Regions from separate parts of the Homo sapiens genome. Here all the other regions are linked to region 2. The links come from fine-mapping of genetic effects on gene expression. A gene starts in region 2. Each other region holds a variant in brackets. All regions are shown on one strand. Distances are from middle to middle. Region 1 overlaps RHBDD1 (rhomboid domain containing 1). Region 2 holds the start of RHBDD1 (rhomboid domain containing 1). Region 3 overlaps RHBDD1 (rhomboid domain containing 1).

Region 1 (10,330 bases), 31 kb before region 2:
TCGGGGAAAATATTACAGAGGTGTGTCAGGGAATTAATATTATATTATTTGTATGGATTTAATAATGTTTATAATATTTGTCAGGTCTTAAAATTTTATGAACTGTCTTTCCCTTTCTCATTTAAAATTTTTACTTTTTTCTGCAATTTTGTACTTTTTTCCTAAGGAGAACCCATAAAACCAAATAAGCTTGAAGTCCATAAAACTAAGACCAGCCTTTGACAAACATTCATCTTCCTCAATTCCTTGCCTTGGGGTCTTAACCCCCAACTCTGGATTAATCTCATCAAACAAATATAAAAGGCATAACCAATGAAGAAGTCATCCTTTATAATTCCCCCTAAAATAAACAATCCAGACAAGGATAACCACTGATCTAGACAAAAAGTTACTGGAAACAAGTTATCCGCATGATGTCCAAGTGTCACCTCATATAGTACTTGCTAATTCCAAAGGGATAAAGGTGCCCTTATAATGGAGACTACCTTAACCAAGTAATTAAACTTGTAATTCCTAACATAGGAGCCACCTGGCATGTATGTCCTTCCTGACGTAATGCAACATGTATCATCCCTATGGAGTATTATCGCCAAAAAAGAGCCAGTTTAATCTGAATCTAATTAAGCCTTTAGACCCAACTTTCAGTTTCCAGAAATGCAACGGATAGAGGGACAAGTTAAACAAGCCCCAAAGGAAACAAGCAGACAAGTCTAGAGTGTGGGATATTCTATAAAACGAGAGATCTGATATCTTTAAAATGTCAACTTCATGGAAAAGTAAAAAGGTGGGAAGACCGTCTTAGAATACAAGAATAAATAAATACAATAATCAAAGGCAATATATGAATTTTGGATCCTGGTTCTCCTTTGGCCACAACAGTTATTAAAGACATTTTGAACACTAGGAGAATCTGAACATGAACCAATTACTAAACAACATTAAGGAATTACTGTTAATTTTCTTTTGCATGACAACAGTAATGTGGTTTTGTAAAATTATATTTTTCTGTTTAACAGATGCCTGCTGAAGTTTTTAGGGGTGAAGTTATTATGTTTACAACTTACTGTCAAATGGTGCATCAACATTTCTTTATGTTTGAAAATTTATAAATTTATAAATATTTTTGAAAACAGAAAATTGAAACAAGTGGAAAAATAAATTGAAAATAAAATTTAAATTGAAAAATAATTGAAAATCTGTATAATAAAAAATTGAAACAAGTAAAAAATATATTTTTTCTCTCATTTGATCAATCTAGCCAAATAATTTTTAGTTGGGTCAAAGTAATTTTATTCTTGTCAAATATTAGCAATGAAGCAGTATCCAAAGCCTAGGGGGTAATGCTTTCAGCTGTCATATTTTACCAAATACAGTGGATCCTTGAACAACATGGGTTTGAACTATGCAGGTCCACTTACATGAGGATCTTCTTCCACCTCTGCTACCCATGAGACAATAAGACCAACTCCTCCCCCTATTCTCCTCCTCCTCCTCCTCAATGTGAAGATGATGAGGATAAAGACCTTTATAATGATCCACTTCCACTTAACAAATAGTGCATACATTTTCTCTTCTTTATGATGATCTTAATAACATTTTATTTTCTCTAGCTTACTGTAACAATACAGTATATGATACATATAACATGCACAATGTGTGTTACCTGACTGTGTATGTTATTAGTAAGGCTTTCAGTCAATAGTAGGCTATTGATAGTTAAGTCTTTGGGGTGTCAAAAATTATATATGAATTTTCAACTACATGGGGGCGCAGCATCCCTAACCCCCAAGTTGTTCAGGGGTCAACTGTAATACCCCAGGGTCCAAATGCAGCCAAGGCTTGCTTATTTAGTGTTTAAGAGTGGCTTATGGGCATTTTTAGACTGCTGTCATTCAGGACGAAAAAAGTCAAGTAGGAGCAAAGGGAAGTAGGGAGTGGAAGTCAAACAAACAAAATTAAATAACAGCTGATTTATTAATTTTAGAAAGCAAAAGAAATTAGGTATGATTCTATTTAGGAACAGTGTACACATCCAGTGATTTATTTCATAATAAAAGGGTTGAGTACTTCCTATTGTTTACAAAGAGCTCATTCGCATATGACACCTTAAAACTGACTTATCAAACAGAGAAGGTAAGTAATAGCCCATTACACAGGTGAGGAAAATGAGGCTCAGAGAGGCTGTGTACCTTGCCCGAGGTCCCACGGCCAGTATGTGAGCCCGGCCCTGTCACATTCAACCGCTCTCCTCTAGTATAGTCGCTGAGTGGCTGTCTTACTCTGGGTGATGTTCATGATTCTCCACTTTGGTTTTCTGTCTAGATAGCCTAAGGCTCAGACGAGAACACACAGAGGTTCATAATCTCGCTAGAAGGTAAAACCAGGCAACATATCCCCCTTCCTCCCATCAACAGAATCTTGGTGGGGGTAGGAGGTGGGAAGGGACAGAAGCCTGGTCTAGGAAGGAGGCACCAGAGGTGGCCTGCACATCTCCCTCCTGGGACACCCCTTCAGACACTATCACCTATCAGGGTCTCAGGACACGAAGGAAAATGGAAAGCCGGATGTGAAGCAGAGCAACCTCTGAAGTAAGTACACACAGACACTGTGAGAAGCAAAAGCACCACGTGAATGAGGGAGATTGCTTCACTCTGGCATCAAGTCCACATGCCTCATACTCCTCACGATGCCTATTTGGGGTGGCTTTCCTTCATAAAACTCTGTAACTGGGGGAAATTACTAATTCCGTGGCTTTCATAAAACACAGAGGTCCACCAAATGTTTGCTTTGGCAGATTTTTTTTCCTCCCGAAGGGCAGCCCATACAGTCCTGCAATAAAGCAAGCTTTGTTCTAAAGATTTACAGTGTTTTCCCAATGAAAATTCTAATTGACAACCATCAAGCAAATAACAATGCATTGCAAAGAGAGCTCTAGTTTCAGCCATTCTTCCGAGATCCATCTCAAAGAAGCATTCACTGCTTAGGTTTCCTGGGCCAGTGTTTAGCGTAGTCTTTATTTGGATACATGTGTAAGTAGATGCTTGTATATTAGAAGTTTATCATTCAAAGCAGTCAAATCTTAAAAATCAAAAGACTTTAAGTTCAAAGACAGGAAATTTCATTTACTTCCCAAGCTCAGAATTACCGGTGCCTCCACAAAGAATATGCATATGACACAGAAATGCAACCATCCCTTTTCCATGTAAGTTGGGGGGAACCCTAAAAAATGAAATGCATAAAAAGCACTTCAGAAATAGTTGCATAAGAATATTAAACGCACTGTTATTCAATGGATTCATCACAGGATGAAAGTTCAAATAGCAGAGGGAGTGATTTTCATATGAATGTGGGTGTTGCCAGTCACATACAAGAGCCTATCATTGACACAGAGAACCAAGTCACATCAAGCAAGTCAGGGGAGCAGTGAGTGACAAGGTATAGAGAGGGCTGTTCAGATAAGGGACAGACATTACCGGATGCTTTCTCAAAGAAAACTTTGAAGATTTTGTTAGGCTTTCTTCGTGGAACTGTCAAAAGTAGCAATACAATTGTAAATGAGTGGTACTCAGGGGCCACGTCACTGTCATTTATGGGCCAGCTGCCAGTGGCTGCCCGTGATGGGAAATTAGCATTAAAGAAGGACCTGGAGTTACCGGGCTGACACACAGCCCCATGAGAATACTCTCAAATAAGGTAAGACACCCAGCACAGTCACACAAATCAAAACCAAAATAAAAACTGTCTGTAAAGAACAGTAGCAAATAGAAATCTTCCTTCTTTCTGAACCTTCCTGAATCTCACCCTTTGCCAACGTCCAGTCCCACAGTAAAAACAAACATTATGCATTTCCAGTTGCACAAGACAGATTAAGGAAAGTGAAGCTGGTGGAAGAGGTGGAAAAAATAACACAACTTATCTTCCTTTTTCTAAACAAAAAGCAGAGAAAAGAACCAAAGGAAGAAAGTGCAGCATGAATGGGCAGGAGCCCCAGACAGGAGTCAGGGGGCCTGAATCCTCACAAGGCTGGTGTCTACCACAAACTGTTTGTTGATAAGTCTCTTAACCTTCCGAATTTCCAAGTCCTTCTCTGTAAGGGAAAAAATTCATCTAAATCAGCAGTTCTGAAACTGTACTTCCTGGAGCTCTAGGGTTTTGTGGAGGTGCCTCCTCTGAGGAAGCCACAGCAACATGGGAGTAAGGTGAAAGGGGCCCCATTCCACTTCTCAACCCAAAAGACTTCAGAGCTGATCCATTTCACATTTTGAGTGTTAAGTAAAGCCTTTTGTTTAAAAAGTTCTACTACCAAGACAATTGACAGCTAAAATGGCTTAAAAGCATTAGATCGGCCGGGTGCGGTGGCTCATGCCTGTAATCCCAGCACTTTGGGAGGCCAAGGCCGGCAGATCACAAGGTCAAGAGATCGAGACCATCCTGGCCAACATGGTGAAACCCCAACTCTACTAAAAATATAAAAATTAGCCAGGTGTGGTGGCACACGCCTGTAATCCCAGCTACTTGGGAGGCTGAGGCAGGAGAATTGCTTGAACCCAGGGGGTGGAGGTTGCAGTGAGCTGAGATCACGCCACTGCACTCCAACCTGGGTAACAGAGCGAGACTCCATCTCAAAAAAAAAAGAATAATAATAATAATAAAAAGCATTAGATCAACATACCTTATAGCTTTTTAATCTTTATAGTTACGTGGTTTCTATGTGCTTCTTTGGAATCTTGCTTTCAGAATTAACCAGCTGATTGGCTGGTTAATATTGATCCTCAGATCAGTATAGCAGGTTCTCCTACTTAAAAAAAAT[G/A]AGGAATCTGCAACTCAGTTAAGACAAGTGACCCAAAATTATACAGCTTAATAGTTGAAAAGATTCAAACCCAGAAATATCTGACATTAAAACTATTAAGCTTGATTCTGTCCTAATAGATAAAGAATAAACCTCACTGTGAAAAACAATTGGTTACCTCATTATTATTGCAATTTTTTTCTCCACAGAACATCAGGTCCTTCAACTGTATTCCCCAAAAGAAAACACTTACCCTGGTGAGAATAAATGAATAGCCACAAGTTCGACCCAACAAGCAAATCTGTTCGGTACAGGAAAGCCCAAAATGTTGACAAAGCCTCCAGGGCAATAATGGTTGTTAAGAACTTTCAAAGCAAACAAAACTCCTAAAAGAGAATGAAGAACATGCAAATATCAACAATCCAAAAGTAGGAGTATCAACATTTACAAAGAAAGTTAATTAAAAGTGAAAATGATTATTCGATTACATCCAACTTTGTGCTTTAAAACATACCCTATTCCTTACAACCTTGCATTTGGTAAAAAGACAACGTTAAAGGCAGTCACTCCTTTGATGTTTCTAAATATAGAAGTTCATATTGGTGTTCAGTATGCTACTAAATACATAATACCTACCATGTGAATAAAATACTATTATTAGTATTAAACGCCAGTGAACTGTGCACTACAAAATAGTTATGCTATATAAATTTTAACTCAATAAAAATACCAGTAATATGTATTTTTCTAACCTCTATGGAAAAACATGTTGAAGACAGGGCATATATTCTTTCTTCTCCCACAATTAGATGCATAAGGATACATCTTGGAAGGAAAGGGGAAGGATGTCAGGAAAAGCAGAAGGAAGGATTAGATTTCCTTGTTTCAGGACTACCTCTCTCCTCCCCTTCACATTCTAATATTTAGAACGCCTAATTTAAATCCTGCTGGCAATTTTGGTCCCATGAAATATCTGTAAAAAGGAACTAGTGAGGAAGAAAGTGAGAGACAATGCATCACACAGCTAATCTGTAGACTGGGCTCAAGTCCCAGCTCCATCGCTTCCGAGCTGGGTAACCTTGTGCTAGTAACCTCACTTCTCTGGGTCTTGGCTTCCTCATCTATAAAATCAAGACAATCCCTCAACAGTCAGCAGGTGGTCAGAAAAAAAACTACAAATAAAAAAAGTAAAATAAAATCAAGGCCGGGCACAGTGGCTCACGCCTGTAATCCCAGCACTTTGGGAGGCCAAGGTGGGTGAATCACAAGGTCAAGAGATAGAGACCATCCTGGCCAGCATGGTGAAACCCCATCTGTACTAAAAATACAAAAATTAGCTGGGCATGGTGGTGCGTGCCTTGTAGTCCCAGCTACTCGGGAGGCTGTGGCAGGAGAATCGCTTGAACCTGGGAGGCGGAGGTTGCAGTGAGCCGAGATCACGCCACTGCCCTTCAGGCCTGGTGCCAGAGCGAGACTCCGTCTCAAAAAAAATAAATAAATAATAAAATAAAATAAAGATAATCCCATCTCCATGTGGATCTGCTGCATAAATTAAATTGGTTAGGTTATGCAGAGTGATTATCATGGCTCCTAAAACATGGCCAGCATGCCATAGCAGGGTGTGGTCCATTTATTAACGAAGTCATCCAGAGGCATCGCAGGACAGTTCTCCAGGTGGCCTTGGACCTATGTAGTTCTCCCCCTCCTTTCTCGCTTGTAGTTCTCAAGAATAACTATGGAAATGTGCTGGAAATCCAACACCCTGAGATAAAAGGGGGCTGGCTGAAACAGCCTAATCCTCTCCCGAATAGGATGTCTTTCAAAGCTTTGCCCAGTGATTCATGTGATTCCTAGGTTTGTACCTGGCTGCCTCTTTGGGGTTCCTTATTTGCATGCAAGGAACACACACAGTGAAGACTCCAACAGCCCTAGGCAGCTTTTTGAGCCTTGAAGATGGGCTCACGATGAATCCTAGGCTCCTGTTTTCCCTTGCTGCCTAACTGTAAATACTAAATCTGCCTCATGTAACTTGTTGCAGATGAGTGTGCTCTGTCTCACCAGGTGCAGACAAGTTGGTAATCAGAGACAGCACACTGAGCCTACTTCACAAGCACAGTCATCTTTTTTGAGAACTCCCTATTACAAATACATCTGTGGGTCTTTCTGTGACCCTACCATAAGGAGCTGGTGCATATTTCCAATACTATGTCTTCTACAAAACCACCTTCCAGCAGGTCCTAGTGCAGACTAAGAGTGAATAATGCAGCATAATGTAGAATGGCAAAAACTAGTCCCTGCATGCTCCAGCCTCCTCTTCAAGACGCAAAGCCTCAGCAGCCCTTAACCACTCAGAATTTGATAGGGACCCACACTTCATAAAATGACAGCAGCCACACCTCCCTTGCTTCCTTTATGCATGCAACCTCAAAATTTTGTCTCCCTTACCTGAGAAACCTACAGCACAGCTCCTTTTGAAGTCAGGTTCATCCATAAATTCGGCAACAGCAAATTGCAAGAGCAGGTATACCACTCCAGTAAGTACAGAAAATGCGGTGATAACATAGGCAAACCATCTACTTCCCAGTCTTCTTTCTAGATTTATTCCTTTCCAGAGCATGGATGCCATATTGAAATACAAATGCCAATCATCAGCATGGTGAAGGGGAGAGAGCAGTAAACGCTGCCAGTCTTTTTGCTGGTAACACTTCTCCACACTAAGGCAGGAGCTATACAGTGGCTTCTGAGGGTTCAAGAAGAACCAGATGTTGAGGGCCAAAGTTGCTAGGGTGACAGGTGGAATATTGTTGATCCCAACATGGAAGATTTGAGAAAGGAGTAGAATAAGTCCAGTATTTATCCCTCTTGATCTCCGTTGCATGGCCAGATATCAGGGAAACAGCTCAGCAATGGGAAAACGTACTCAGGTGGTCAGTTTCAGGTATCTGGGGAGATATACAGACGGCTGAACCTAAAACACAAAATGCATGTGAAAAACCATCAATTAAGAATTAGTACATATATAAGACATACTCGCTTCAAGACAAACTCCCATGAGGCAAATGCTACTTCTCATTCTAACAGAAATATTTATGTTCGACATCTTCAAGAGTAATATCGAGGATGCTGACTGACACCCTTCCTTCATTTTACATTCTAGAATAGAAATGTTATCCCAAATCCCAATGAATCAGTTAATGGACAGGTATGTTTTTCTCTGACAAACACACCACGAAATTAACTTCACTTCCCAAACAAACATGTAACCTCATGAAAAACCTACAAAGATAGTGTGCAAGTATTAAATGATTTCTACTCAGAATCCTGGCCAGGATTCTTTATCCCCTCCATTTTTTTCAAAGAAATATTTGATTTTGATATGTTAGAATGAGTTTGCTCCAAAGTTTTTAAACATCAACAAGCAAGTTTTAAGACACGAGCATACATTATCTTTAATCCCAATTTCCACACTGCCAGATATCAGTGGTCTGAACTCTACTTTCATAACAACTTCAGCTTTTCGTTACCTACTCTACAAGCCAAATCCTGGGTTGAAACACAGTCCTTGTTTTTAAGAGGCTCACTTTCCACCAAGAAATAAACCAACAGTGGCCACATAATGTTCTAAATGCAGTGAGAGAGGGAACCCAGAGCACAGGCACACAACACAGCCTGAGGTGGTGATCTGACTATGGTCTTCAAGGGTGATTTGGGGTTGACAATGAGAAGTTCCATGGCTTACTAGCCCGCTTCTCCACCCCGCTGGACCTGGGCTGGCACTGTGACATGCTTTGGCTAACAGAATGTGGAGGAAGGGATACTACATAAGCTCCCAGCCTATACCTCAAGATGATTTATAGGCTTCTCTCTCTTGAAACCCTCTCAAACAACATGTGAAAACTTTAGGCCAGCCTGCTGGGTAATGAAAGAGAGGCACACACTCCAGTCACCCTGAAGGTCCTTGCCACTGGTCAGCTACTACTCCAGAGGTGAAGCTGTCTAGCTGACCACAGGTATACAAGTGAGTCTCGCTGAGCCCAGCCTAATTTGCTGACCCACAAAACAGTGAGCTAAATAAATGGTACTTGGTTTACTTCACTGAGCTTTGGAGTGGTTTGTTATGCAACAACTACTAACTAATACAGAAGGTATTGCCTTTCGCGAGTGCTGTGGTTTAGGTGTTTGTCCCTCCAAAACCTCATGTTGAATGAATGAATGAATGTATTTATTTATTTAGAGCCAGAATCTCACTCTGTAGCCCAGGCTGGAGTGCAATGGCATGATCTTGGCTCACTGCCACCTCCACCTCCTGGGTGCAAATGATTCTTATGCCTCAGCCTCCTGAGTAGCTGGGATTACAGGCATGTGTCACCATGCCTGGCTATTTTTAGTAGAGACTAGGTGTCACCGTGTTGGTCAGGCTGGTCTCAAACTCCTGACCTCAGGTGATCCGTCTGCCTCAGCCTCCCAAAGTGCTGGGATTACAGGCATGAGCCACTAGGCCCGGCCTCATGTTGAAATCCGATCCCCAGTATTGGAAGTAGAGCCTAATGGGAGGTGTTTGGGTCATGGGGGAATATCCCTCATGAAAAGATGAATGCCCTCCCTGGGGTCAGGGGATGAGTGAGTTCTCACTCTTATTAGTTCCTGCCAGTGCTGGTTGTTAAAAGAGACTGGCACCTCCCCACTCCCTTGCTTCCTCTCTCATCACATGATCTCTGCACATGCTAGCTCCCCTTCACCTTTCACCGCAAATGGAAATGGCCTGAGGCCCCCACCAGATGCTCAATCTTGAACTTTACAGCCAGTAGAACTGTGAGCTAAATAGACCTCTTTTCTTTATAAATTACTCAGACTCAGGTATTTATAGCAACCCTAAACGGACTAAGCCAGGGAGGGACTGTTTCATGCTCATGAGAAGAAGCTAGTAAGGGAAGAGATGCAGGCAGAGACACAGACTAAAGATGCAAGAGATAAATAAAAAGGATCAAGTGCTTGGAGGGAAGAGTCTTTTCCTCTTAACAGAAAGAAAAGAAAAATCAGGTGTAGCTATTAGGGGCAAAATGTTGAAAAAGTTCTCATCTAATGGTTTCTGCTTTCTCTGTGGAGATTAATTGGCCCCCAACCAAACAGGTAACTCACTCTAATACCCTAAGGATTCTAACTTGGACTGCACACTGGACAATGCATGAGTTTTAGAGTTAAAAAAAAAAAAAAAAAAGGCAGGATTCTCCTATCTTCTAGCTCTGTGACCTGGGGCAAATCATTTAAACTTTCTGAACTTCAATTTCCTCCCTTTAAGAAACATAAAACCTCCTTCCCAGGATTACTGTGACATGCTTGGAACAAAAGAGATGCAGAATAAACAGTAGCTACTACTTTCATTTCTATAAAGTAAACTTACTTATGTGAGAATTAATTCCTTTGCAAATGGTAACATCCTAAAAAGACTCAAATGTACTCCTATGCCCCCATATGGATTCTTATTATCAACATCACACCAAAACAATGTTCAGAAAAAAATTATGCATGTGTATATATATA
Region 2 (10,330 bases):
AATATATTTTTAAAAAACGTAGTGAAATTTTTTTCACAGTATTGCCCAAGAGACTTTTTACTTAAGAAAAAAAAAACCCAAATTATATGTAGTTGCCAAAACACACATACACACAAGTCCACACACACACCCCTATATATTATTTATAAAACTGAAGTCATTGTAAGTAACATTTATATTTATTTCATTCATTACTATCCTGATATTGTGACTTTGCATTAAAAATGCATAAGCAAGTTAACACCTGGAGAAACAGCTGTTGGTGTAATGACAACATTCCTAGAGCTAATGCCAGAAGATCTGGGGTCAAATATGGAGGCCATCATGTACTAGTATGTGGCCTTGGGCAAATCATACAACCAGTACTGTAGAGCTTCTGTTTCTTTATCCATAGATGGCAAAAAATTCCACTTACATTCTAGAATCACCATCAAGAATAAATGAAATAGGGTATTATGTTAAAGCGTGCAGTGCATCACCAAGGTTTTTCACTCTCCTTTCCTCTCCTTAATGAGATTTTCCTGCCCTTAGAGCTAGATTCTATTACTGTGTAATTATGAGGTGCATGTAACAATGTCCAAGAAACTAGATGGTAAATAACCCCAACATGCAAACCGGAATGCACACATTGTTAGTTGGCCATCACGTAGATCCCAAAGGTCTCTTGCCCATTATCTGTTGCTTCCCAGAAATTTGATAGATTTTCTTTCCTGAAACAGCCAAAGTTATCTATGGGCTTTGAAATATCACCATCATGATATTGCCACAAAGCAGCTGGTTGATTGAAAGTAACTCCCCCTCCCCCAAGCTCCAGCTGTCACCAGGAAACCCTCTTCAATGTGTGAAAAAGACAATGTAATATCACTAACTACCACTATTAGTAACAATCTAACAAATACTTAGCATTTGAAATTATTTTTCTTATGAAGGCTCATTATTAACTAAAAATTAACTCTAAAAAAACACTTTACTATATAAATATAGAGTAGTTGCTTCCATACAACAAAAAAATGATAGGGCTATAAACACAAGTAATACACTTCCTTTGACTCCTTGTTTCTTTTTCCCCGAGTCATTTGTAATCCTAAACAACAGTCAGTTAAAATGCCAAATAGCTTTTAATAGCGATACAGCTGTCACAACTTGGAGGGATTTTTTAAAAAGCTAATTCCTCAAAAAAGTGCACAGAATCCTACTTTGTAAAATACGGGTCAGGTGGGTTTTTTTTTTTCTCAATAATCACTCACTCCTCTGCATGAGAAGCCATCCATATGGTGACATGGCTGACAACCTTGGAAATTGTCTTCAGAACAAGTTTGTGAATCCCACTTACCAGAATTCTTAATACCATTACGTTTTAGGTATAGCTCATGCCCTGAGGATTTCTATTCCACCACAGAGTTTCACGTCCAGCTCCCCGGAATCCGAGGTTCCCTAGGCACGCCTCCTAATATCGCTGCCAAGGACCAAGAGCCTGTGCCCTTCAACCTCACTGTTCTTAAAGCTTCTCGGCTCCTGAGTTTTACAGGTAAGATTCTGTTTAAGAGGCTCCCTGTTGAAAAAAAATATGAGGTCCATTGCTTACGTGGCTATGACTGCAACATAAAAGGAAATCTACCTTTTAAAGAATCGCTTCCGTTTTTAATAGTTTTTTTAAAGAACATTTACATATACATGTACGTATCTAATTTTACATATATAGAAAATTTCCTTTTATACTTGGTCCCCACCCCCATATTCCAATATACTGACAAATAAAATTATGACCTAGTGTGAGTCAAGTATTTTCTGCACTCATACATTCATATACAATATAAACACACAGAAATACATGTAAGAGATTTTGTTATCCCTTATTAAAAAATGTAATGTAAAACTTTTCACTTTGCTATTAAGAATTCGTGTTTTAAAAAAATATTAGCAATTTCAGGGCTAACAGCATTTTCTCATCCTTTGATGCATACCTTCAACGAGGTCTCATTTCCTGTAACAGTGTCCCCTTCTCTAGCTGACTGTCCCCATTAACTAACAGAAGATACTTTATTACTCATCCCCTGACCTTTGGATGTTTACCTTGCTGTAAACATCCAAAACAATTTCTACAAGTTGCTCTGTTACAGTGATAAAACTGAAGATGGTGTTTTTTCACGTTAAAGTTTCAACTTTTTTCAAGTGTTTGTTTTTTCTCATTCACAATAATATGAAAGCTTTGACTCCATTTCAGCATTTTATGGTTAAAAAGAAAAGCAGTGCAGTTAGGTAATAAAATTACCTCATTTATAAAAATATTATAAAATGAATGGCATAAAGTTAGGTTTGAGACAACAAATACCTTTTTTCCCTTTGTCCGACACACAACATTTACTGAGCCTCTGTGCCTAAAACAAGGTGGACGTGTTTTATGCGTTATTTCATTTAATTCAATGGCCTGAAGTAGCACATCCTATGACTCCTACTTTACAGAAATTCAAGTGGGGAGGATGTTAATTTGTCTAATGTACACAATCACTAAGTAGCAGAGGCAAGATTCAGAGCAGGGCTTGTCTGACCTAAAACCACAGATAGCGATCTGCCTCTCCGATGAGGAGAACAAAAAAAAATATTTAATGCCTTCGAAAAATAAACATTTCATGATGGGGCAGTGCCAATTTGGTGGCAGAGCTAACGAAATTATTTCCAGAATAATCCATTCAAAGTGACTTATGTTTATCTGAAAACTCTCTCAATATCCAGGAGCCATGGTATAGCCTTGGGAGCAGCGTGCTCTCATCAAAACGACATGTGTAGGCCACGGTTTGGCACTGACCTTCTCAACATTGCAGTGAATGTAGCCTTTAGAGCAGCTGCTTTAAATCCTGAATATTTCTTTCTCCCCCTACAATGGACCCCTGAAAGAGATAAAGTTGTAAGAAAATACTGCATCTAAAAAACACAGCAGGTTGAGGGCACTCCTGTGATCCTTCCTGAAAATGGAGGTATCTAGAGTAGACATGAGATCTTTGCTACCGTGGAGTTGTACGACATATGGGAAACAAAGATAAGGACAGAAACATATTCAGCCTTGGCTTTCGCTTGCAAGTCACTATGTTACAATAATTCTCAACTCTAAAACTAGTGCTTACCTCTGGTCTTTACCAAATTCTGGGTCAAAGAAGGTATAACTAAACTGAAGACGAGGCAGGTGGATTACCTGAGGTCAGGAGTTCGGGACCAGCTTGGCAAACGTGGTGAAACCGTCTCTACTAAAAATACAAAAATTAGCTGGGCGTGGTGGCAGACGCCTGTAATCCCAGCTACCTGGGAAGCTGAGGCAGGAGAATCGTTTGAACCCTGGAGGCAGCGGTTACAGTGATCCAAGATTGCACCATTGCACTCCAGCCTGGGTGGCAGAAAGAGACTGTCTCCAAACAAAGCTGAAGAGATCAGAAGGCCAAAGAATTAAAAACTACTCTTCAACATAAATACTAATGCTATTCTTAAAAATCCTACAACCACAATAGCATTAGTATGCACTGCTTTAACTTTTAACTGAATATCCTGCATCCAACAACCTTGACTACACAGAATTGAGAATCCCGAGGTAAACAAAATACCCTCTAAGCAGCAGTCCCAATATCCATGCGCTACAGCTCATATCTACCCCGCTGAAGAATCCTTCCAGCACAAACTATGTACTTATTTTATGCAGTTCTAATAAGTTACTTAATAACATCTTTGAGGGTTTTCTATGTGTTTTGTGTTAAACATTTTTCTTGCATCTTCATATTCCAGCCCTGTGAGGTAACATGTCCAAGTTTTTCCATCTAGGAATTACTTCAATTCAAATTCCATTATATGTGATTCCACAATGGGTGTTATCACTACGCCATTAATTCTCAAACTTTAGCGTCCAGGTGCATTGGTATCAACTGGAAGGCTTGTTAAAATATATTTCTGATTCAGTAAGTTTGGGATAAGACCCCAAAATGTGCATTTCCAAGAAGTTCCCAAGTGATGCTGATCCTAGCGTCCTGGGATTATTTAGAAACCAATGCACTTCTATTCTTCTTTGAAAGAATACTTGCTTTCCACAGCGACGGCAGGCCTGCAGCAAACCAGAAGCCTTTAAAGTTTATTAGAACTACCTCAAAAAGACACACAACTGTGAGAAATTAGATAAAGCCTTCTAATAAGCAATTTCAAAGAGAAAAAAGAAAAGCCTGGGAGTCACTGAGTGTACTGCAGAGACCCAAACACCTCGATAATTGAATCATAACTAGGCAGGCACTCATTCATTTTGACAGTAACGCTGAGTCTTCAAAAGAGTTTATGCTCAGTTTAGAAAAACAAATAAGGCTGTGATCCGTTTCTTGTAAACGTTTATCCAAAGGTTTTTAGGGGTTGGACAGAAAGGGTTTACTTTGGCGGATTTTTTGTCCTCTAATAAAAGTTATTACTGCGGTGAGGCTTAGACTTGTTCTGAGAAACTGAAAGCTGTCCCGAGAGCACCTGAAACTGCATGCTCTGTTGCTGATGCAACGTCACTTCAAACTTCCTGCTTTCAAAAGGAACCCTTTAAACTCGCTCAGCGCCAACCCCTTCCTCCGAGTGTGGGCACGTCGTTCCCGTGCGGTCCGGCGGAGATGCGGCAACTTCGACAAGACCCCAGGTGGAGTTACCCCAGGAAACGCCCTCCCCGCTCTCGGACTTGCCCCGGACGGGGAGGCTGTGCCTCCAGCCCCGCCATGCCTCCCTCGCCCTAGCCCCCCGGGAGGCGCCGACCTCCGCCCAGCAGCCCCAGCCCGGCCGCCAGCTCCCGCAGCCCGGGGAAACGGCGAGAGATGCCGCTCACAACCAACGACAGCAGCCGGACCAAACAGACGCGGAAACTCACGCTCTCTACGACCCGCCTGCGTCCCCACGTCTTCGCGCGCACGTGCGTCATCACGCACGTTCCCGATCCGGGGCGCCCCGGGTTCCTGGGGCCGGGTGCGGGAGGGGAGGGCCTTAAAGCGGACGGCTCGGCCGCGGCGCATGCTTAGTTGTGCGCGCCCGCGCTCTGCTGTCTGCAGACCGCGTGCGCCGGCAGTGGCTCTAAGGGGGCCGCGAGGGCACAGCGGGGCAGGACCGCGGCAGAGCGCAGTAAGGAGAGTGTGGACCCTCGCCCTGTCCTCTAAGCTCCATGTGAAATGTGGATAATATTCCTTACTGCCATAAATAGCCACTGGCCGCTGACTACGCGTAAGGCAAACAAGCGACCTGCGTTCAAGGGACCCGAAGACTAGGGGAGAAGCAGCGAGCGGGTCGCGGCCGCCTACCCAACGGACGCCTCTGCCCAGGTTCTCTGCCGGGAAGCTTCGTCCTTCCGGGCCCCAGCGCAGCCGGAGGCTGGGGAGCTGCTGCCTGGAAGGGTCAGATACCGCCTGTTAGGCGGAGGGTGGGAAAGACACTCTCCTGCTTCAGGAGCTATCGCAGACAACCGGAGGGCGGCTTATCGCAGAGTCCCAGAGCCAGCCAGCAAGGCAAGGTCGCGGGTGCACCTTTCACTCCCAGAAGCTTGGGTCTGGGACTGCACCACGCAACGTTTGCCCATTTTGAGGGCTTTAGGTGTTTCATATTTCAGTTAATAGAATTTCGATTAATACATAATTTGATACCATTTTAATTGTTTGCTACTCGGGAGCAAGTTTTATGTTTAGCTGTAGGAGTTAGGCTAAGTTAAATGTTGCAATGCTATATATATTTAATAGGATATGAAAAAACTATCTTACAGCCGGGCGCGGTAACTCACGCCTGTAATCCCCGCACTTTGGGAGGTCGAGGCAGGAGGATCGCTTGAGCTCAGGAGTTTGAGACCAGCCTGGACAACATAGTGAGACCTTGTCTCTATTTAAAAAACAACAACAGGCCTGGCGCGGTGGCCCACGCCTGTAATCCCAGCACTTTGGGAGGCTAAGGCGGGCGGATCACCGGAGGTCAGGAATTCAAAACCAGCCTGGCCAACATGGCGAAACCCTGTCTCTACTAAAAATACAAAAATTAGCCAGGCATGGTTGCGGGCGCCTGTAATCCCGGCTACTCGGGAGGCTGAGGCAGGGGAATCCTTGAACCCGGGAGGCAGAGGTTGCAGTGAGATCGCGTCCATGCACTCCAGCCTGGGCGACAGAGCATGACTCTATCTCAAAAAAAAAAAATCTTACTATTTGGTATGGAATTTTCTGATAGCTAGGGTAAAGATGCTCTTTTTCCAAGAAGGAATCCGAGTATCCGAATACAGGTGGTTTAGTGTTACTCTTTGTTTATTGGAAGTTGTAGCAGCTGTGTTTAGATAGTCTGCTAAAACAAAAACTGCCTAAACCAGAAGAGTTTATCTTTTGCCATTGTGTATTAAAACTCTTCATAGAAATATTTATTTTGGAGTTTGAAATTTAAGTGAAAATGTGGCTCATGCATAGGTGTGGGTGTACATATGACTTTCAAGTGACAAAGAAGATTCTTAGCAAATTGTACGTGTTCATTAAGACTCATAAGTTACCTCTTTCCTAGAAAAACAATATACTCCTCCAAAAGCTCAACTGACAATGAGAAACTGCATTTCTGGACATGAAAAGTCAAATGAATGCGGGGAAAAGTAAATTGCCTATAGAGGTATTTTCTGTATTTCCCTAGAGGGGGAAATGTGTAATTTCTCAAAAGGAAGAAGTCCTCATTTATCCTTCTGAACCACAATCATATGAATCCATTCAATTAATATTAATCTTATCTTCTATTCTCCATCACTCTCTACATCTTTCTATAATTGCATCATTTTCTTGTCCGTATAATACATCAAATGCAGAGGTGATTTTAAGGGAGCCACAAATCAAGAAGTCTCAATTCAATAATTTCGTTAAAATGTAAGAAATATATACGGATTAAGAATATTCTTAGGTAATTATGTTCTGTTTCAAATATCAGTGAAAATTTTCATAGACATTTAAGGGGTAAAAGACATTTAACAGATAGAAAAAAATATCTACCTTTTAAAAAATGACCTTCTCTTTTGTCCTACGTGATTTGTTGAGCAGACTGGGTTTTTTAAAAGTTTCTGTTGAAATGAGCATGTTGTAACATGCTCATATCCCATTTCAATTGACAAATATCACTTGGATAATAATTGTATATCTTAAATATGAACATATGAAGCAATCAGCAGCAGCATCCTTTCACTGAGCAAGGCTTAAAAATACCAAAGAATCAGTGCCAGAAGAAATTCTTTAACTTAAAATATACGTAATCACTACATTACCATATAAAACAATGATTTCTAAATGCTGGAAAGTATATATCTTAATCATGAGACGAGGCAGCACTATGCACATTGTGCATAATATGTGAGACATTGAATGGTATAAAATAAATTTTAACTTTTATCTAAGGTTTACAGGAAAAGCAGCAATACCTATGATTAAGCCACCCGACTTAAATGAGTGTTTTTAAGATGTGGTGCTTGCACATAAGCGGAGGAGTGGTGGTAACAACCCTTGTACAGTTCACAAATCCAGGACTGGCAGGAAGGTAGACAAGTGTCATTCTCAGATTTCAGAACCCAGCCTGAAAGTGAGAGGACGTCAGGCAACAATACCATGCAACGACAGCGTGCAACAAATACACAACTGGATTATCTTTTTAAGGGAGAAGCTTGTTTGGGTTTCTAATTGCTTTTAATGAACCAAGTATTGATTACTGTTTTACCCAAAACTGTACCAAAATATGTGTAAAACTGATAAGATAATTTATAGCTTTCTAGTTATGGAAAAGCTTGCAAATTAAATAATTCAAATCTCAATTTAAGAACTGTAAAAATGAGAAATTGGTTCATGTACCATAGTGATAATAATACCAACAATACTTAACAGTAGACTATGCAGACACTAACCATAAGAGATTTGTAGTGGCTATACTAATATCAGATGAAACAGACTTTAAGAAAGAAATTTCTTTTTCTTTTTTCTTTTTTTTGAAGTGCAATGGCACAATCTTGGCTCACTGCAACCTCTGCCTCCCGGGTTCAAGCAATTCTCCTGCCTCAGCTTCCCAAGTAGCTGGGATTACAGGTGCCCGCCACCATGCCTGGCTAATTTTTTGTATTTTTTTAGTAGAGATGGGGTTTCACCATGTCAGCCAGGCTGATCTCAAACTCCTGACCTGATGTGATCCACCTGTCTCGGCCTCCCAAATGGGATTACAGGCCAGCGCGTCTGGCTGACAAGAAATATTTTTAGAGACAGAAATTCCATACTGATAAGAGGGTCAATACATTGAGAAGATATAACAGTTATAAATGTATATGCACCCAGTAACAGAGCCCTAAATTCATGAAGCAAAAATGATTGAATTGAACAGAGAAATATACAAACAACAGTAGTTTGATATTTCAGTATCCTACTCACAATAATGTGTAGAACAACCAGGCAGAAAATCACTAAGTATATAGAAGGCTTGAACAAGACTCTCAACCTAACCAACATGTACAGACCACTGTACTTAATGACAGCTGAATTTATGTTCTTTTTAAAAAGTATACTCTCCAGGATAGCCTTATGTTAGACCATAAATAAGTCTCAGTAAATTTAAAAGAATTGGGATCATACAAAGTACATTCTCCAGTTACAGTGGAATTAAATTAGGGATTGACAATAGAAAGAAATTTGGAAAATCCCCAGATGTTTGGAAATTAGATTACTCATGGGCCAAGGAAGAAGTACTAAAGGAAATTAGAAAGTATTTTGAAATGAATGAAAGTGAAAACATATTGAAGTCATGCACTGCAGCTAAAACAGTGATCAAAAGGGTATTTAGTCCTTTAAACACCAAGAAAAAGAGTCTCAAATCTACACTTCCACCTTGAAAACTAGAAAAAGAGGAGGAACGTAAACCTTTAGCAAAGGGAGGAAATAATGATCATATTGCAAATCAATAAAATAAGTAACAAAAATAGAGAAAATGAAAATCAAAAGTTTGTTTTTTAGAAAAAAAAAAAAACCAGTAAAATTAATGAGCCAACATTAAACTGGCCAAAAAATTAAAAAGACCAAAATTAGGAATCAAAACAGGTACATCACTACCAACCCAAATTAAAAGGATTGTAAGAGACTGTAAATAACGTTGTGCCAATAAATTAGACAATGCAGATGAATTGGACAAATTCCTAGACAGACACAAATTGCCAAAACTGGCTCAATAGAAAATCCAAAAAGACTTTATTTTCTATGGTGGTTGTAAAAAAAAAAAAAAGTATTATAAACTAGGTGGCTTAAGACAACAGAAATTTATTATCTCATGTTCTAGAGACATGAAGCTCGATCAAAGTGTTGGCAGGGCTCTGCTCCCTCTGAAACCTGGAAGAGAGAATTCTTGTCTCTTTCCCACTGCTGGTGTTTTCAGCAATCCTTGGCCTTTCTTGGTGCTCCTTGGTTTTACAACTGCAGCACTTCAGTCTCTGCCTGCATCTCCACATGTGCTGTTCCCTCACGTGCCTGTCTCCTAGAGGCTGAAGTGCCCAGCCTACTCCAGTGTGACCTCATCTTAATGAATTACATCTGCAATGACCCTCTTTTGAAATAACGTATTCTAAGGTACTGGGGGTTAGGGCTTCAACACATCTTTTTGGATGACACAGTTCAACCCATAACAGACATGTAACAAGTACGGAAATTTAATACTTTCCACAAAGAAAATCTTCCCACAAAGAGAAGCCCAGGTCTAGATGGATTCACTGATGTCAATCCATCAAATATTTAAGGAAGAAATTATACCATCATACACAAACTTTCTGAAAATAGAACAGTTCTCCACTTACTCTGTGAGGATGTTATTACCCTGATAACAAATTCAGACAAAGACATTACAAGATCAGCATCCCTTGTGAATGTACAAAAATTCCCAATGAAGTATTAGCAAACCAAATATGGCAATATGTATGAAGGATAGATCATATACCATGAATGCAAGTTTGGCTTTCCATCAAAAAAGGCCAGGTGCAGTGGCTCACACCCGTAATCCCAGCACTTTGGGAGGCCAAGGTAAGAAAGTGCTTGAGCCCAGAAATTTGAGACCAGCTTGGGCAAGATGGTGAGATCCTATCTATACAACAAATTAAATAAGGCAGGCACAGTGGCACACACCTGTAGTCCCAGCTACTCAGGAGGCTGAGGCGGGGGGATCACTTGAGCTCAGTAGTTCAAGGAATAGCGAGCTGTGATTGTGCCACTGCAGTCCAGCCTAAGTCACAAAGGGAGACCCCATCTCTTGAAAAATAAAAAAAAGTTTATATCTGGCACTGTGGTATGCACCTGTAGGTCCAGCTACT
Region 3 (10,330 bases), 59 kb before region 2:
CACACCACTGCTGCCTTTAGCTACACAGATCATACAATGCACACTCAGACTACAATGAGAAGAAAAATAATTTTTCCAGGGTCACAGTGATTCTGCAAGGTAACCAATAACGTCACGATTCAAATTCAGATCATGTATCTCAACTTGAGAGCAAGGTAAGTATTGATGTAATTTCACTTTAATAAGGAACAATAACTTAATCCAGTAGTTCTTAAACTAATTCAAATTCCAAGTACCTTTAAGCGCCTGATGAGAGCCAACAAGCCTGTCTTCAGAAAAACTGTGTATACACAAAGTGCGTTACCTGTAATTTTAGGATGTTCATAGATACCTTGAACTCCATCCATGGACCCCTTCTTAAAAACCCTTGATTGAGGTGAATAATTCATCACAAACAAGAATTTCAGACATCAGCACCAAACCAAAGTAATTCTGTATTTAACTGGAAAACATCTTGCTAGTACTCAAATCATGGCGGCACAGAGGAAGCCATTTATTCTGATTACTCAAGTTCATTAACTTATTGTCCAAATTCCTTGTTGTGTCATTGCTTCTGTAATGGTGCAACCTATTTCTGGGTTCAGTTTCCTCCTTGCCAAAATACAATGTTTCATAGTTCTTTCAGTTAATATTTGAGAGTAAAAAATTATCCTAGTCTCTGTATGTCCTAAAAGGTTTTTATTTCAGCATCCTATTTTGATGACAGGTATAGGATCTACTGCTGCTGATAATAAATGTACTGTCAGTTGGAAAGTCATTCCTCTGTAGGCAATCTGTCTTTTTCTTCAGTTTTCAAAGATTTTCTCTTTATTTTGGACATACTGTCTTTATACCACAATCACTGTAGCTAGTTGCAGATTTATTTAACCTGCTAAGATGTGCTGTGTTTTTCAACATGAGGTCTCATGTGCTTTTACAATTCTGAAAATCCTCACCCATTATTTTTTGTCCAGTGGACCTCTAGATATGCAGCACTTGTGTATTTCCTGACACAGAGGGGGTGCTCAATATATGTTTACAGAAAAAAATTTTAATAAAATATGAAAGGGTTACAATCAAATCAATGTTGCTATACATTATTTATATGGGATAGTGATAGTAGAAAGGCAATTTTGGAGCAAAACTAAGATTAAGATATTATTGTGGATCTAAGTTATGCAAACTAAATACGAATATTATTAACACCAACAGACAGTGTTCTTTCCCATCAAGCCAGCTTAAGCTGCTCCTCATCCATTTAAGAGGCTATTGTAACGCTGAGTTAAGTGGTTATGCAAAATGTTCCTGCTCTCATGTGCCACTGTGACAGAATCAAAAACTGGATCTGTGACTGAAAGCTGTGACAAGCTATAAAGGCCCTCCTCTATTAAATGGCAAATTCTTTCCACAGTTGAAGAGGTTGTCCTCTCAAGCATAGCTCAGAAAGCAGAAAATGTAATACTCTAAGACATAATCTCACAATGTATGCAGAGCAAATGACCTCATTAAGGACGCAACTTGGAGACACAGTGTTGGACAAGGTAAAGGAACAAGGTAAGGTAAGAGGCAGTCAGCTAGAAGTGGCCTATTGTACTCTCCACGATTTCTTCCTGTAAAAGCAGTTAATAGCAGGTAGGGGCTGCACTGATCAGAAGCTCTGGGGTTTGGGGATCTTAATAAATGGTCCCAGATTCGCAGTACTAGCAATGAGATGTAATACAAATTTTTCAGGTTTTTGAACACTAAGGCCACTAGGAAAGATTCTGACAGGATTGCTTCTTCTTAACAGAAACTGTTTTTAAACTTCTTGTTTTCTGTCCTTGATGCCTCCTTCAACCATGATACCAGCATGATTGAATGACCTGGTCTACATGCTCTCTACCATGCATCCCTTGCTCCCTGCACCTTTGTCCTCAGAAGTAAAACCTAGCCATCTTCCAATATTATGTGCCCCAAAGGCAGCTATACTGACAACGCACCCTCTACAATCCATGATGATTTATTAAACATGGCACCAACTGCAGACACGGGGATAGAAGCTGACCACTGACATTTACTTGAGGTCCAGACAAAAAGAATCTGGACAAAAACAAGGGTATTGCAATAGCAGAAGCCTCTTTTACAAAAGAGCTTCCAAGATAACAGACAATGTTTAGCAATTCCTTGGCTCTCAATTCCATGTCCCTACGCCTGCTAATAAGACAATTCCCTGAGCTGGTTCAAGTAGGTCGCATTCTGCCATGGCTTTGAGGTTTGTCCCCTCCAAAACTCATGATGAAATTTAATCCTCCTTGTAGGAGTATAGGGAGGTAGGGCCTAATGGGAGGTGACTGGGTCATGAGGGCAGATCTCTCATGAATAGATTAATGTCCTCCCTTGCGGGTGAATGAGATCTCACTTTTAATAGTTCCCGCCAGGGCTGGTTTTTGTTTGTTTTGTTGTTGTTGTTGTTGTTTTGTTTTTTGAGACGGAGTTTTGCTCTTGTTGCCTAGGCTGGAGTACAATGGCGCAATCTCGGCTCATTGCAACCTCTACCTCCTGGGTTCAAGTGATTCTCCTGCCTCAGCCTCCCGAGTAACTGAGATTGCAGGTGCATGCCAACACACCCAGCTAATTTTTGTTTGTTTGTTTTTTTAGTAGAGACAGGGTTTCGCCATGTTGGTCAGGCTGGTCTCGAACTCCTGACCTCAGTGATCCACCCGCCTCGGCCTCCCAAAGCGCTGGGATTAAAGGCATGAGCCACCACACCCGGCCCAGAGCTGGTTCTTAAAGAAAGCATGGCACTGCCTGTCTTACTTCTTCCTCTCTCGCCATGTGGTCTTTGCACAAACTGGTTCCCCTTCACCTTCCACCATGAGTGGAAGTAGCCTGAGGCCTTCAGCAGAGGCTCAGTTTTGAACTTTCCAGCTGGTAGAACTGTGAGCTAAATAAACCTCTTCTCTTTATAAATTACCCAGATTCAGGTATTTTTTTATAGCAACACTAAATGGACTAAGACATATTCATTCATTCACTCATCAAATATTTAGTGACTATTACACTAACAAGACAAACAAGGTCCTTACCTCCTGGAGCTTAAAATCTAGAGTGGAGGAGACAGATGGACAGACAGACAGACAGACAGACAGACAGACACACACACCTCAAACTGTTAAGTGTAAGAAAGCAAGTCTACTTTACCCAGAACTGTCTGGGATGGCTTCTCAAGGAGGTGTCATTTAAGTGGCACTGCAGGATCTGGAGCTAGCATGCTCAGAAGTGGGAATGGAAGATTCAGGCAGCTACAAGCACATATGTAGCAGCTTGAGGCAGGAAGAATTTGGTATTTTAAAACATTCAGATGGCCAGGCACGATGGCTCACACCTGTAAACCTAGCATTTGGGAGGCCGAGGCAGGTGGATTACCTGAGGTCAGGAGTTCGAGACCAGCCTGGTCAACATGGTGAAACCCCATCTCTACTGAAAATACAAAGATTAGCCAGGCATGGTGGCACGTGCCTGTTGTCCCAGCTACTTGGGAAGCTGAGGCAGGAGAATCACTTGAACCCCGGGGACAGAGGTTGTAGTGAGCCGAGATGGTGCCACTATACTCCAGCCTGGGTGATAGTGGGGACTCTGCCTCAAAAAAAAAATTTTTGAGATAACTAATAGTAAGCAAGAAATATGGGCACAGGGTGCTGCACGGATTTAGAAACTCACGGTACATAAGGCCTGTGTGCCATGTGCCTTATGTGCCATAGTAAAGAACTTGAGTTGTTTTCTAAGTACAATGGAAGGCCACTGGAGGATTCCAAACAGGAGCATTTTTAGGAGTGATCTATTCCACCTGCTGAGAGAACAGACCCTAGAGAAGTAAGAATGGCCAAATTAAGCAGAAGACAGGTAAGGAGAATAATGTAGTCC[C/T]GGTAAAAGATGATGGCAGCTTGGAAGGAGGTGGTGGCAGTGGATTACAGAAATATTAATACTACTACAACAGATCTTGATAGGACTGCTTCTATTCCAGGGAAGGGTAATAGATAGATCTGGGATGTATTTTGGAGGCAGAGATAAAAGGACTTGCTGATGGACTCAGTGTAGAGGGTGAGGGAAAGGAAGAAATCTAGGCTTCTGGCTTGTGCAACTAAATGGATAGTGGAAGCATTTACTGAGATGCAGAAGATTGGGAAAAGGAAAGGCTAGGGTGAGAGACAATGCAAGAACTCAGTTGTTTTCTTTGCTTTGAGAGGCCTATGAGACAACAAAATAGAGACATCTAATCAGAAGGTAACTAGGTCGCAAGTTGGAAGCTGAGAGGGAAGAATGATTCAAAATGTTGCTCCCATATTTCATGTGTTGATTCCTAGAATAATTGTATACAGTTATAATGTTACATATTTATACATATAACATATTATGCAGACACACAAATATACATAAACATATCTAAAAACAAGATTTAAAGGAAATACATAAAAAATATTAATAGATAATATGTGGGGAAGGTAACATCCCTCTTATTTTCCAAACTTCTTATAATAGTGTTTCAGTAATTTCATTTATTTTTAAATGCAAAGGGAAAAGACACCGAGCAAGGCTCTCATTTTAAGAACAGTACTTCTCTCATCAATGTGGTGGATAAGCCTAAATAGTTTTGCTGTTGCTGGGGTGAGTTGTTAAGAACACCTTCCTCCATTTGGCACAGGCAAGTGTTTCTAAATAGTGCTCTGGATGAAAGTCATAATCATTAGCTTTGCAGTATTACTAAGCTTCTTTAGGATCTGTGTTGCTATTCAAATCTTCAGAACAAAATGGCAGGTTGTCCTAAATTAAATAAAAGCAAAGGTAAGTGAAATCACACAAAATAACTGGACAAGAATCTCCCCCGACTCCCTTAATTGGGCACAGAGGTTAAAGAGTCAGTGAGATTCTGTGAGGTTAGTGTTCTTTTCCTCAGACACTTCATGTAACCAGACACATCCTAGAGTTCCCTACCCTGTATCTTCTATATTCCATGCTGAGTAGCTCCCACCGACCACAATCCTCTCCATCTTCTCTGCAACACCCCTTCCCACCCACACCCCAACCTCTTAGAAAAGTGGTCAGGAGCACAGCTACTGGGGTGAGACTGCAGGGCTGACTGCTGCTAGGCAGCAGGAGAGCTCAGAAAGGTTCACATGGCCTGCAAAGGTGTTAGCCCAGCAGTCTACCCCATGGTTGCCTAGCTCAGGCTTCACCCTGGCTCATGTAACCGTGCCCTCATCTAGCCCATTTTCACCACTGTGACAAGCGTGTCTGTCTAACCAGCAAACCTGATCCTAGCCCAGAAGCCCTTTGGTAGCTCCCCAGTGTCTCTACAATAAAATGCAAGCAAGATTTGTTAGGCTCTTCATGGACTTCTGTCTGCCTCTCCAGCCTTCTCTCTCCCTTCTGCCAGGGCTCAGCCCTACCACACCCTGGGCTCTAGCCACTCACCAACGCTAAGCATCCACCCTTCAGGACTTTGTATGTGCCATTCCTTTTGCCCTCCATGTCCCCCAGCTCCTGATCATCCCGGGCCAGTGTGACCACACTCCCTCAGGACTTGGCAGAGGCTGCTCCTCTGGATACTGCAGTGGCCTCTGTGCTCCTCTAGCATGCTAAAGTTTCCCTGTCCATTGATTTGTCTGACATCACCCTGCTACTTAATCCGGTGACTTTCAACCCAATCACACCCAATACCACCTTATAGCCTAAATATTTTGTAATGTTCCTTCTTGAAATAAAATTTGTGAATAACACATCTTGTACACTTTGTGTACACAGACACATATACAAACACACAATCACAAGTCAACATAATATCCTAGCTAAAAAATAAGAATAAAAAGTAATAAAATAAAATATTATGAATTATAGGCTGGGTGCAGTGGCTCACGCCTGCAATCCAAGCACTTTGGGAGGCCGAGGCAGGCAGATCACTTGACATCAGGAGATCGAGACCAGCCTGGCCAACATGGTGAAACCCCATCTCTACTAAAAATACAAAAATTTGCCATGTGTGGTGGTGCACGCCTGTAAATCTCAGCTACTTGGGAAGCTGAGGCAGGAGAATCACTTGAGCCCAAGAGGCAGAAGTTGCTGTGAGCTAAGATGATCTCAATGTACTCCAACCCTGGCAACACAGTGAGACTCTGTCTCAAAAAATAAAAATAAAAATAATATGAATTACAAATGCTCAGGCACACCACCAGCAGGAGACATATAAAGTAGCCCTTAGCTTGCACCTCTGTGTGGAATCCTCATAAATATGGGAATAACGAATGCAGGTGGTTACAGATGCAGGCTTTTTGTGACTCAAGTACCACATTCAAGGTTCCGTGGGTAATGTGAGTTTACGTGAGGTTAAAAAACTCTTAATTCCAAATAAAGCAAAGTACAACTTTCCCTCACTTTACATTTACAATTTAATTTATTAATATAATTTTCCTGGAAAAGTCACTGTATGTTAAATCCATGTCCCCCCAAAAACTGCTCTTTATTTGAAAAGCACACTTAGGTTTTAGGCTCAGATAACCACAAACAGGTTTTTCATTTACAAGAATGTCCTTTCGACAGACTGGGGGTCAGTAGTGCTGTGTGTAGAGGACTATTTTTATCGTGGAGGTCTGTCCTGTAAGCTGTGAGACAGCTAGTACCTTTGGCCCCTGCACCCCAAATGCCAGTAGCACCCCTGCTAATCATTAGGATTACTAAGAACAACCCTGCAAATTTCCAAAATCCCTCCTGGGGACAAAGCCACCCATCCCAGTGGAAAACCACTGGCTTAGCACACAAAATATGCTTATTAAATGTTTGCTGAATTGATGACTTTTAATCATGAGGCTTCGAAACTATTTCTTTTCAAAGTACTTCTCATGTGACTATACTATGCAAAAATTCCAAGGATTCCAAGTCAATCTATAACATATTGAACTGATACGCAATAAAAGTTCCCACCACAACTGAAATGCACATGGGGAGTTGAATATTTGAAAGAGGCCATGATCACTTCCACATTGTACTGTAGCAGAATAAATGCGACTTGGCACATGAAAAATGCTCTGCCATCTGCTATTACTATAGACAAAAATATTTCTGGATACCACATCAATGATCATTTGCACAATATCTCCAGAAAGTAAATATAAAATGAAAGAGAAGTTCGACTGTTTATAGCCTGATTTTAACATGTGCTACTGGTATGAAGCAAATAGATATTCCCATGAGTTCAGTCTTTTGGAGGTATTTTCACAAGCAATGCCATAGCTAGAAATTCCATGGCCCTATGGTAGATGGACTCTCTGACTTATTGATCTTTGTTAAAGGAAGTTCATCATACAGACACATGAAGAAGAAAAGATGGCAGGAAATAGTCTCAACTGGAACTGTGGAAATGCTGTCTACTGTATTTCCTTGTACACATCATAACATGAATGAATGCACTGCCCTTCCCAGGTTCTACTCTTGATCTGCTGGTTCTCAATCCTGGCTGCACTTTAGAATCCCTTAAAGAAGTTTTACAATTTACTGCTCCTTGGGCCCTACTCCCAGAAATTACGCAACGTTGCTCTGGGGTAAGGTCCTGACATTGGTTTTTTTTTCTGTTTAGTGATTTTTTTGAAATGTTGTTTTTAATTCCCCAGGAAATTCCAACGTGTTCAGGTTGAGATGCATTGATCTTCACCCAAAATTTGAGTTCTAATGGTGAGATTTCAGTTGCCATATTGGGCCAATAAGAAAAACATTTCGAGAGTAGGCAAGACTACACCTCACAAATTACCCCATAGAAGTGGCATCTGTTTCCCTTCTTGGTAAGTTGGTCTTACTTATTCTATTCTACTGCAATGCTGCATAAGAATTAAGTATAGCTTTGAAAATGCATGCAAGGAAACATGAACTTATTTCAAAAGATTCACAAGTTCTTTGTACTTATAAAAACCTGATACCTCAAGTCAGTGTATCGCATGTACAAAAAGTCATATGCACATGGCCAAAGATGATGAAAGTAAAAAGTTAAGATAATCCCTGAATTCCTAGAGCCAACATCAAGATTAGGACAAAAACTGCATTGCAAAGTTAGCCCATAATTTCAGAAAAAGTAAATTCTGCTTGTGGTTAAATCTGGTATGAATAAAAATTCTGACTATGAAAAACAGACATGCCCCATCTACTACATGACTCAGAGACCTTAACATGCCATCAACATCACATACTACTCTGTAGCAGCTTTACTGGTATGTCTGTAAGGCACAGTTAATGTTAAACAAACAGCATAGAAATGCTAGCTAGAAAGTTCTAAAATCTGCCCATTTGAGCTGAATCTGCTTATGCAATACAAGCTGCTAGGCTGAACATTTGTGAACAAAAGTCACCCTAGTGAAGCCAGGTGACCCCTATGGGCTCATCTCAGCACAGTGTCACAGTCAAAGAAACACAGCCCCACCTCCAGTGGAGGCTCAAGAGGTGCAGATAGTCCCTCAGCTTCCTGGCAGCCAGAGCACAGGCATGCGACCTGCACTGGCCAATCAGATACCCTTTGTATCTAATACAAAGTCTAGTGATGACAGTCCAGTGAAGCACTGACCAATGGCAACAAGCATCCTGCCAGTTCTTACAGGTTCTTCCAGCCCAGGTCTTCAGTATTCTCAAAAATATTAGAAGCTATCTGATATCCTTCCGATAAGTCTTTTTATGGTTCAGTTTGCCAGAGTTTATTTCTAGGGTTTCCAACCAAGAATTCTATTGGTTGGGTACAGATACTTATACAAATGCCAGGGAGACAGTAGCTGCATTTTCTCTAGGATTGCTAGCATTAGGATGTAGGAGCTGCTGATGTCAGCTCTGTCACCATGTGGAGAGAACTCTTCTGAGAATGAAACTGGGCAGACAGACTTTCAGATGACCCCTGGTGATCCCTGATTCCTGGGTATTCACTCCTTGGATAACCCCTCTGCCAATGAGCATAGGTGGAACCTGTGAATTGTTTCTAATCAACAGAATACAAGTCACTTCTATGATTATGCTATTAATATTACATAAGACTGTAATTTCTGCCTCACTAGCAGACTCTTCTTTGCTGAAGGAAGGTACCACATTGTGAGCTGCCTTAGGGAGAGAGTCAAGTGGCAACGAACTGAGGGCAGCCTCCAGCCAACAGTGAGGCTCTTAGTCCAACAACACAGAAGGAATTGAATTCCTCCCACAACCACAGGAGCTGGCATTGGAGCCTTCCCCAGTCAAGCCTTCATATGAGATTTCTGTACTGACACCTTTGTTGCAGTCTTGAGAGAGCCCGAAACCAAGGACCCAGATAAGCCATACCTAGACTCCTGACCTATTAAACACTGTGGGATAGTAAATGTGGTTGTTTTAAGCTACTGGATTTGAGATCATTTGTTACATAGCAATAGATAACTAATACAAAAGCCAAAACAGGCGTTGGGGGTGGGTGGTTAGTGAGATAGAGCCAGGAGGGAGAAACAGAATCCTAATGACAGTAAGAATCTGAGTTTCATCATATCTGAAGCTCCTGGAACCTTAAAGTACACCATTAGAAATTTTAATAGTGTCCTTTTCTTTGATCAGGTTTGCTTGAGCTGGGTTTTTTACTTTTTAAAAAAATTTTATTTTAAATTTTTATGGGTACATAATAGGAATATATATTTATGGAATATATGAAATATTTGGATATGGGTATACAATGCTTAATAATCACATCAGGGTAAATGGGGTATCATTCATCCAAGCATTTTAAAATAACTAAAAGAGCATAATTGGAATGTATGTAACACAAAGAACTGGGTTTCTTTAAATTGTAACCAAAGGACTCCTAGCCAAGGTGACAAAAGATGACAGAGGCATTATAGAATCCAGCAGGCCTCAATCTCTCAAAGAGCATTTGGCTAAACACTCTATTTCAGCTCCAGGGTAGGCAGACCACAGGTGGAATGGAGGACCTGATGATTCTAATAAGAGTCAAGAAGAATGTTACTACACTGAAGAAATACTAATGCAGATGTTCATCACTGAATGAATTCCCAGAACCTTCTAACAGATATAGCTCCATTCCTCATGTGCAGGAGATAATAAAAATATTGTAAGAATTAAAAGAGAAAATACATACTAAAGAATCCTGTAGAATGGCTGACACGTTGCAGGTAAACAAAATGTGAGTCAAAACTCAAACATCTCACTGTTTTAAAAACAGACACACTATTTTTAAGTACTCACTTATTAGGTCTTTTAAAGGGCTCTCTAAAATCTGTAGTTATTTTATTCAGTAAATTGTCAGCAAACACTTTCAAGGGGATTCCATGATTTACACAGTTCTGGAAGACTTGGACGTGCTCTGACT

What was found. PIP is the estimated chance that this variant, and not a neighbour inherited with it, causes the effect.
Region 1: its variant is the best candidate, but not a certain one, in a credible set for the expression of RHBDD1 in whole blood (TOPMed, PIP 0.69).
Region 3: its variant is the best candidate, but not a certain one, in a credible set for the expression of RHBDD1 in whole blood (INTERVAL, PIP 0.68).

The regions. Positions count from the first base shown.
Region 1 is chr2:226,862,031-226,872,360 of GRCh38, reverse strand. It overlaps RHBDD1 (rhomboid domain containing 1), which reads right to left. Exons shown (of 9, transcript NM_001167608.3): 4 at 7,235-7,757; 5 at 5,043-5,175. The coding sequence starts at 7,667. Among named protein-coding and RNA genes, the nearest start is that of RHBDD1, 31 kb to the right of the region's middle. The variant G/A (reference allele first, on the strand shown) is at 4,811.
Region 2 is chr2:226,830,631-226,840,960 of GRCh38, reverse strand. It overlaps RHBDD1 (rhomboid domain containing 1), which reads right to left and starts at 4,907. Exons shown (of 9, transcript NM_001167608.3): 1 at 4,874-4,907; 2 at 2,807-2,888; 3 at 1,334-1,552. RefSeq lists enhancers at 4,395-4,544, 5,385-5,454, 5,294-5,588 and a silencer at 4,595-5,124.
Region 3 is chr2:226,890,093-226,900,422 of GRCh38, reverse strand. All of the region lies in intron 5 of RHBDD1 (rhomboid domain containing 1), which reads right to left. Among named protein-coding and RNA genes, the nearest start is that of RHBDD1, 59 kb to the right of the region's middle. The variant C/T (reference allele first, on the strand shown) is at 3,883.